Linked DNA regions of Homo sapiens. The protein of the gene in region 1 purifies or fractionates together with the protein of each later gene. This does not show direct contact. Each region holds a gene or a part of one and is shown on either strand. Other genes may lie near its edges. The genes, in order: TTC21A and IFT140.

Evidence for each region.
Region 2: the proteins of TTC21A (region 1) and IFT140 purify together in Homo sapiens (co-immunoprecipitation; one study listed by IntAct). This does not show direct contact.

Annotation. Positions count from the first base shown.
Region 1 is NC_000003.12:39,134,892-39,138,702, forward strand, and holds part of TTC21A (tetratricopeptide repeat protein 21A), read left to right. Parts: intron 1-201; coding exon 202-283; intron 284-1,438; coding exon of another isoform or gene 1,439-1,465; coding exon 1,466-1,616; intron 1,617-2,007; coding exon 2,008-2,169; intron 2,170-2,288; coding exon of another isoform or gene 2,289-2,303; coding exon 2,304-2,496; intron 2,497-2,594; coding exon 2,595-2,819; intron 2,820-3,314; exon of another isoform or gene 3,315-3,375; coding exon 3,376-3,496; intron 3,497-3,664; coding exon 3,665-3,732; coding exon of another isoform or gene 3,733-3,789; exon of another isoform or gene 3,790-3,811. UniProt on the Homo sapiens protein: Intraflagellar transport (IFT)-associated protein required for spermatogenesis. Required for sperm flagellar formation and intraflagellar transport.
Region 2 is NC_000016.10:1,601,773-1,605,583, forward strand, and holds part of IFT140 (intraflagellar transport protein 140 homolog), read right to left. Parts: intron 2,711-3,811; exon of another isoform or gene 2,643-2,710; intron 820-2,642; coding exon 598-819; intron 1-597. UniProt on the Homo sapiens protein: Component of the IFT complex A (IFT-A), a complex required for retrograde ciliary transport and entry into cilia of G protein-coupled receptors (GPCRs).

The DNA.
Region 1 (3,811 bases):
GTCCTCACCTTCTGGGTGGGGGCCTGAGAAACCCTCAGGCTTCTCCTGTGGCAGCTTCTCACAAGGCCTAGGGAGGCTGCCTTGCAAGTCCTTTTCTACCTTCCCTTCTTACCACCATCACCCCCATACCCCCCGCCTCCCCCTACACCCATGCAAGCTGCCACTGTTGGGAAATCTGGAGCTTTGTGTGTTTTCTGATAGTTGATGGCTGACCTGATGTTTAGAAAACAGAAACATGAAGCGGCCATCAATCTTTACCACCAAGTCTTGGAGAAAGCGCCAGGTAATTCTGCCCATGGAGACTGCCTGTACCAGTTCCCACTGAGCAAGGGCCGCTCTCCCAGAGAAGGGTGGGACCTCTCCCTCCTTCCTGACTGGGCAGAGGAAGCCCCTTCCTCCCTGATTGTTCCAGAGAAGCAGGAAACTGATAAAGACCCAGTGGAACGTGCCGGCCCTTCCCGAGTCCAAGGGGCCAGTTCCTGGTCTCAAGGACTTGGCACTGGACCCAGGACAGCATGTCTGTCCCCAAATCACAGCCAATGGGGCTTGACACAGTCCCCTTTTGAGGTCACAGCCACTTGTAGGGACTAGAAATTCTCCCCCGTTGTATAGCTTCATTCCCATTCACTGCAGCGTAAAACCACCCCTTATTGCTGGGGAAAGGGGCCAGACCTGAGGCTCAGGTTGGAGCCCTGGCAGGCCCATGGCAGTGTGCCCATAGGCCCAGGAGGTCACCACGGTTAGGAGTATGGGTGCTGGGGCCAGGCTGCCTGGGTCTGAGTCCTGGTCTACCACTTACTGGTTGTGCAACTTTCAGCAAATTATTTCTCCATGTCTCAGTGTCCTCATCTGTAAAACAGACACAATAAGAGTACCTACCTAGGCCGGGCATGGTGGCTCACACCTGTAATCCTAGCACTTTGGGAACCCGAGGCGGGCAGATCACAAGGTCAGGGGATCGAAACCATCCTGGCTACACGGTGAAACCCTGTCTCTACTAAAAATACAAAAAAATTGGCCGGGCGTGGTGGCGGGTGCCTGTAGTCCCAGCTACTCGGGGGTGGGCTGAGGCAGGAAAATGGCATGAACCCAGGAGGCAGAGCTTGCAGTGAGCCGAGATCACGCCACTGCACTCCAGCCTGGGTGACAGGGCGAGACTCCGTCTCAAAAAAAAAAAAAAAGATTAGGTACCTACCTAATCTTGCAGTTAATATATAGGTAAAGCACTTAATACCAGGTACAATATAAGTGCTATATAAGTGTTAGCTGCTATTCTTTACTATTTTTAAGCATTAGTATTATTCTTTACTCAACCCTGGAGACCAGTGGAGACTCTGGAGCTGTTGGAATGTCCCTGCTCAGCCCAGATGGGCAGTATCTCTTGGCTTCTCCTAGGGCCCCAGCACCCTCATCTGATAACAGCTACTGGGCATTTCAGCCTGGAGATTTCTGTCTCTTATTTTAGACAATTTTTTGGTATTGCATAAATTAATCGATCTGCTAAGAAGAAGTGGAAAACTTGAAGACATTCCTGCCTTCTTTGAATTGGCCAAGAAGGTGTCTAGCCGGGTGCCTTTGGAACCAGGGTTCAATTACTGCAGAGGTATCTACTGCTGGTGAGTTGGGTGTGGTGTGTTGAGGGGCAGCTGTGTGCAGGAAGCCCTACTGGCAGATAGGCTAGGCCCTTGCTCTGCACAAAAGGAGCAGAAATTCTGCCTCCAGGACACCCGGACCCAGCAAGTGAGGGCCCATGGGGGCAGGGGTGGAACCCTGTGGAAGTCAGGGAGAGCCTGCAGCCTCTGGATGGAGGCCAGGTGAGGGCCACTTGGGCAGGCCACCAGCCTGCATCCAACACACAGGTCCGACGCCCGCATCTCCTCCAGGGGAGCTGGGAAACCAGAGATCCAGCCTCTGCTTTGTGCAGACTCACAAAGTGGTCCTTGTATATCCCTGCCCTGTCTGGGCCTCAGTTTCCCTCACTGATTCTTGGTGTTTTCTCCACCACAGGCACATAGGGCAGCCCAACGAAGCCTTAAAGTTCCTGAACAAGGCACGCAAGGACAGCACTTGGGGCCAGAGCGCCATCTACCACATGGTGCAGATCTGTCTGAATCCAGACAACGAGGTTGTGGGCGGAGAGGCTTTTGAGAACCAGGGAGCTGAGAGCAAGTAAGGGCCCATGGAGGCAGGGGCGGAACCCTGGGGAAGTTACAGAAAGCCTGCAACCTCTGGGTTGAAGCCAGGTGAGGGCCACACGGGCAGGCCACCGGCCTGTGTCTGATACCCAGGTCTAACACCTGCAGCTACATGGAGAAGAAGGAGTTGGAGCAGCAGGGTGTGAGCACCGCCGAGAAACTGCTGCGTGAGTTTTACCCACATTCAGACTCCAGCCAGACCCAGCTGCGGCTGCTGCAGGGCCTCTGCCGGCTGGCCACCAGGGAGAAGGCTAACATGGAGGCTGCGCTGGGCAGCTTCATCCAGATAGCGCAGGCTGAGGTGTGGCTGGTGGGGACTGGCGGGCATGGGCAGGTGGCAGGGCCGAGAAGACCAGGCGGCCAACACGTGCTGACGTCCACTTCCTACCTGGTGTGTAGAAGGACAGCGTCCCTGCCCTGCTGGCCTTGGCACAAGCCTACGTGTTCCTGAAGCAGATCCCCAAGGCGCGTATGCAGTTGAAGCGCCTGGCCAAGACCCCCTGGGTGCTGAGTGAGGCTGAGGACCTGGAGAAGAGCTGGCTCCTGCTGGCTGACATTTACTGCCAGGGCAGCAAGTTCGACCTCGCCTTAGAACTGCTGCGGCGCTGTGTGCAATACAACAAGGCAAGGAGCCACACACACACTAGGGCTGCGGGATGGCGGAAAGGATTCTAGGCATTCCAGGAAGGTGAAGCAGGCTTTGCAGGTAGAGGCCATATGGAATAAGAACTAGTCGGGAAGAGGCAGGCTGAGAGGGGCACATGGGCGACAGACCAGAATAGGAATGAGGATCAAGGGCGATGGACCAGGTGAGAGGAGGTGCACAGGGGTCGTGTTATGTCCAGAGGAGGGAACACTAAAGGACAGAAAGAGATGGGAAAGCTTCATGGGTTCCAAGCTGGAGGGACTTTTGCAGGTCAGAGCAGGCCAGGAATGGGAGTGGCGGAACAGGAGGGCTACAGGGAAAGGGGTTACGCCAGTGTCTGGGGTAGCTGAGAGGAGGGCACACAGTTGGCTTCTTGCAAAGGTTGGGGTACCCCTGGGGTCCCTTGGCAGTTTGGTTTATGGCAGCTCACTTCTGTCCCTTGCCTGCTTCTGGTTCTGGTCCCAGTCCCACCCTGGCCCAGGGAACCAGTTGGGGCTTCCGCTCTGCAGAGGCTCTAACTGGCTTTCCCTGCAGTCCTGCTACAAGGCCTATGAGTACATGGGCTTCATCATGGAGAAGGAGCAGTCCTACAAGGATGCAGTCACCAACTACAAACTGGCCTGGAAGTACAGTCATCACGCCAACCCTGCCATTGGTAAGGCAACCAGCCAGGGTGCACGTGAATGGACGTGGGAGGGAGGTGGGCAGGAGGGCCCCCACCATGACCCCAGAACTCAAGGCCTGTACCCTGGCTGTTATGAGAACCAGAGGGGTTCTCAGGTCACCAGGGTGCCACCATCTTTGCTCTCCATGTCCCCGGTAGGCTTCAAACTTGCTTTCAACTACCTGAAGGACAAGAAATTTGTGGAGGCCATTGAAATCTGCAACGATGTAAGCCAGCAGCCTTGGTGGGGAGGGCCTGGTGTAGTGGTGGGGAAACCTGCATGATACTGCACACCCATTCTCTCTC
Region 2 (3,811 bases), on another chromosome or scaffold:
AGGACATGGCTCAGTCTTCACTCTAGATGCCTGTTACCCTTTTTGAATCTTGGAACATGTGAATGTGTTACCTGTGGTTATTTAAGTAAACACATTGTAACATTTCTGCCATATATTTGTGATTCAGTTGCCTCTGCACCATGTCGCTATGCTGTGGGTCTGTCCTGTGTACTGTGTGATGGTGGGCAGCATCCACCACCCACCCACAGGGGTCCAGCTGAATCCTCCCCCAAAATTGTGACAACAGAAAATGTGACTGGACACTGCCCCATGTCCCCTGGGGGGCAGAACCAACCCTGGTTAAGAAGCCCTGAGCTAGACAAACAGGCCTAGGGAAAAGTGACAGTATCTGGGCACGTATCTTTACGAATGCAGTTTCCCAGCAAAGTTCATTTATAAAGGTGCAGACACACCTTTGCCACAGAGTGGCAAATTTTCAAGCCTTGCTTCCAATATAAAACAAAATCTACAATTGCATCTGACAAGATCAACTGAATTTGGCAACAGCACGGTTCCCATATTTTGATCTTTCATACTCTCGAGCATGGTCAGAAAGGGTCAAGGTCTGAAAACAGCGTCTTGCGCGTGTTGACTCACCCTGTCCCCAGACAGCAGGCAGTTTCCACTGGGGCTCCAACGGAGCACGGTGATGTCGGCTGTGTGTGTCAGGGGCATCGTGTGCTGCTCCTTGTCCTGCTTGTTAAACACCGTCACTTCTCCAGTCTCCCAGCCCACAGCCAGCACCAGCCGCGTCGGGTGCCAGCACAGGGAAGCAACCCGGAACGGCCTCTCGACGTGTGTATCTGGCACGCACTCCCCCTGCATTGGATGAGAGGCAAATTCCCACAGTTCAGAGAGGGACAGCTACTTTTAAGAACTTCTGTCTAGGCCGGGCACGGCGGCTCACTCCTGTAATTACAGCACTTTGGGAGGCTGAGGTGGGTGGATCACAAAGTCAGGAGTTCGAGACCAGCTGGGCCAATTTGGTGAAACTCCGTCTCTACTAAAAATACAAAAATTAGCCAGGTGTGATGGCGGGCGTCTGTAGTCCCAGCTACTCGGGAGGCTAAGGCAGGAGAATTGCTTGAACCCAGGAGGCAGAGGTTGCAGCGAGCCCAGATCGCACCACTGCACTCCAGCCTGGGCGACAGAGCAAGACTCTGTCTCCAAAAACAAACAAACAAACAAACAAAACTTCTGTGTGATCTGTGGACTCCACATTGGCGACAAGGTACAAAAGCTATTAAGGCAATGGGGCAATGTTCTCAGTAGACTCTTTAATTTTTCATAAAAACGCACCAACCTTGCCCCTAGCTGAGCTACCAAAGCAGAAGGTAACTTGTGCTCAGCTGGCAACCCCGACCAGCTTCTCATGGAGTGCCACCTTGTCATGATGTGCCACCTCCTCCCCATGGCTGCTGGATGGCTGGCACGCATTTTAGTGCGTGGCTGGGTTCCCTAAAACCTTATCTACAAAAACCACCAGCGAGCCAGCAGGTGAGGTTTGTGGCCCCAGGGATCTCAAAGTGTTGTCCAGAGACCCCAGGACCCTTTCAGGGATCTGAAAGGTGAAAATTATTTTCAGAATAATAGTGACAGGTTAGTGCCATTCATACTCTCCTTCTTTCACGCGTCTACAGTGGAGCTTTTCAAAGGCTGTGTGATGTGGTGATGTCACTAATGACAGCTTGTGAGATATGTGCTGCGTTTCCTCTTTTTTTTTTTCTGAGATGGATTCTCACTCTGTAGCCCAGGCTGGAGTGCTGCAGTGGCATGATCTGAGCTCACCGCAACCTCCGCCTCCAAGGTTCAAGCGATTCTCCTGCCTCAGCCTCCCAAGTAGCTGAGACTACAGGCGCGCCACCAAGCCCAGCTAATTTTTGTATTTTTAGTAGAGACAGTGTTTCATCATATTGGCCAGGCTGGTCTCAAACTCCTGACTTCATGATCTGCCCGCCTCGGCCTCCCAAAGTGCAGGGATTACAGGCGTGAGCCACCGTGCCCGGCCATGTGCTGTGTTTTCTAAAATTTTCTAAAGCAGCAGCTTTGGGGAAGATATAAGTGCGTTTTCAGAGATTAACTTGGTTTGCCCCCAGTTGTTCCACTGGGCTTAGGAGCCATCTTCTGTGATCTCATCATTGTCCAATAGATCACTATTTTGAAATCCTGAAGTTTTCCTTGTGCCAACTGGAAACACAGAAATATGCTATTGACTAGTTTTATAATAGTATGCTTTAGATCTTCTAAATTTAAAAATTTTACCTAAAATTGCTATAACTTTGGAATTTAATAATATTTATTTTAAAAAATATCCCATTTACCATATATGTTATAGGCTCCTGCAAGGGAGAATCTACCCAAAAAAATGGGCAAAAGTGGGGTTGGTGCTGGGGCTGGACTGAGCCCTAAGTCTGGCACGGCCTTCGCAAAGCTGCCAGTATATGGAGGAGCCTGCTGGCAACAGGGGAGCCGCTGACCAGCGCTGCATCGCGCTGCAAGGGCGTGTGTGTGTGTGTGTGTGTGTGTGTGTGTGTGTGTGTGTGTGGAGGGGGGAGCAGTTCCTAAGGGGCCACTTAGCCACTTTCACCTGAAGGATTAATGCATTAATTACAAAAATGGATGAAGGAGTGTCTTCTTTGCAGGTGGCACAGCATGTGCAGGGCTGGAAGGCCGAGGAAGGCTGTGCAAGGCTGTGTCAGCATCAAGGAAGGTGAGCCTGATGTGACAGGTGACAGAGCCAGACCTGGGAGGCGCTAGGGGCCACATCAGGGACTCCATGTTCACCCAAAGAGCAGCACAGGGCCGGGGAGGTGGGAGCAGGGAGTGATTCCATCTGTGATGCCAAGACAGGCCAGGCCTGGTTGCCGTGTAAAGTAGAGGAGGCCTGTGAGGGCACAGCTGCCACAGTAGGAAGCTGTACTGGTGTCCAGGAGAGGGGGATGGGAACCTGGAGGAGGGAAGGGCGGTTGGAAGGGCAAGCAGCAGCAGACTCGCCAGAGGTTCCGGGGGAGAAACTGGGAGGATCTAGTGATGGATTACAAGGTAGGGGAGTGGGAAATGTCAACAGTCATGCCCAGGTTCTTGTTCTAGAAACCAGGATAAAGGGGGTGACTTTCATTGAGATGGGAGGTGCCCATCTCAGTGAGCAGGAGATATGAGGCAGGGGAAGGGTGGGGGACAATTTCAGTTCAGTTTTGTACAGTCTGAGGTCTCCTTGAAACACCCTAGAGATGTCAGGAAGGCAGCTGGGTCCCTAAGCTTACAGCTCAGAGGGAACTTCTAGGCAGGAGATGTATGTCTGCAAGCCACTGGGGATGCTCAGATCACAGGAGAAGGAAGAAATGGAGAGGAGCCCTGACCAAGCTCTGCAGAAGGCCATGGTGCTCACAAGCTGGAAATGGAGGAAGAGCTGGCAAAGCCATGGAGGCCGGGCAGGGAACGCCCTACCCCTGCGCTCTCGGGCATGTTTCCCAGAGGACTTCACAGGAGTGTGGTACAGACAAGGACCCCAAAACACTCAGGGGGTGACACCTAGAAGCAACTGATGACTGTCGCTGCTTGGGTGAAGTTGTGGTGGCAATAGGGAGCCTGCAGAGGGCTGAAGAGTGAGTAGAGGAGGAAACCTCATTTTCTTATTTATTTATATTTTTTGAGATGGAGTCTCACTCTGTTGCCCAGGCTGGAGTGCAGTGGCGTGATCTCGGCTCACAGCAAGCTCTGCCTCCTGGGTTCATGCCATTCTCCTGCCTCAGCCTCCTGAGTAGCTGGGACTACAGGTGCCCGCCACCACGCCCGGCTAATTCTTGTATTT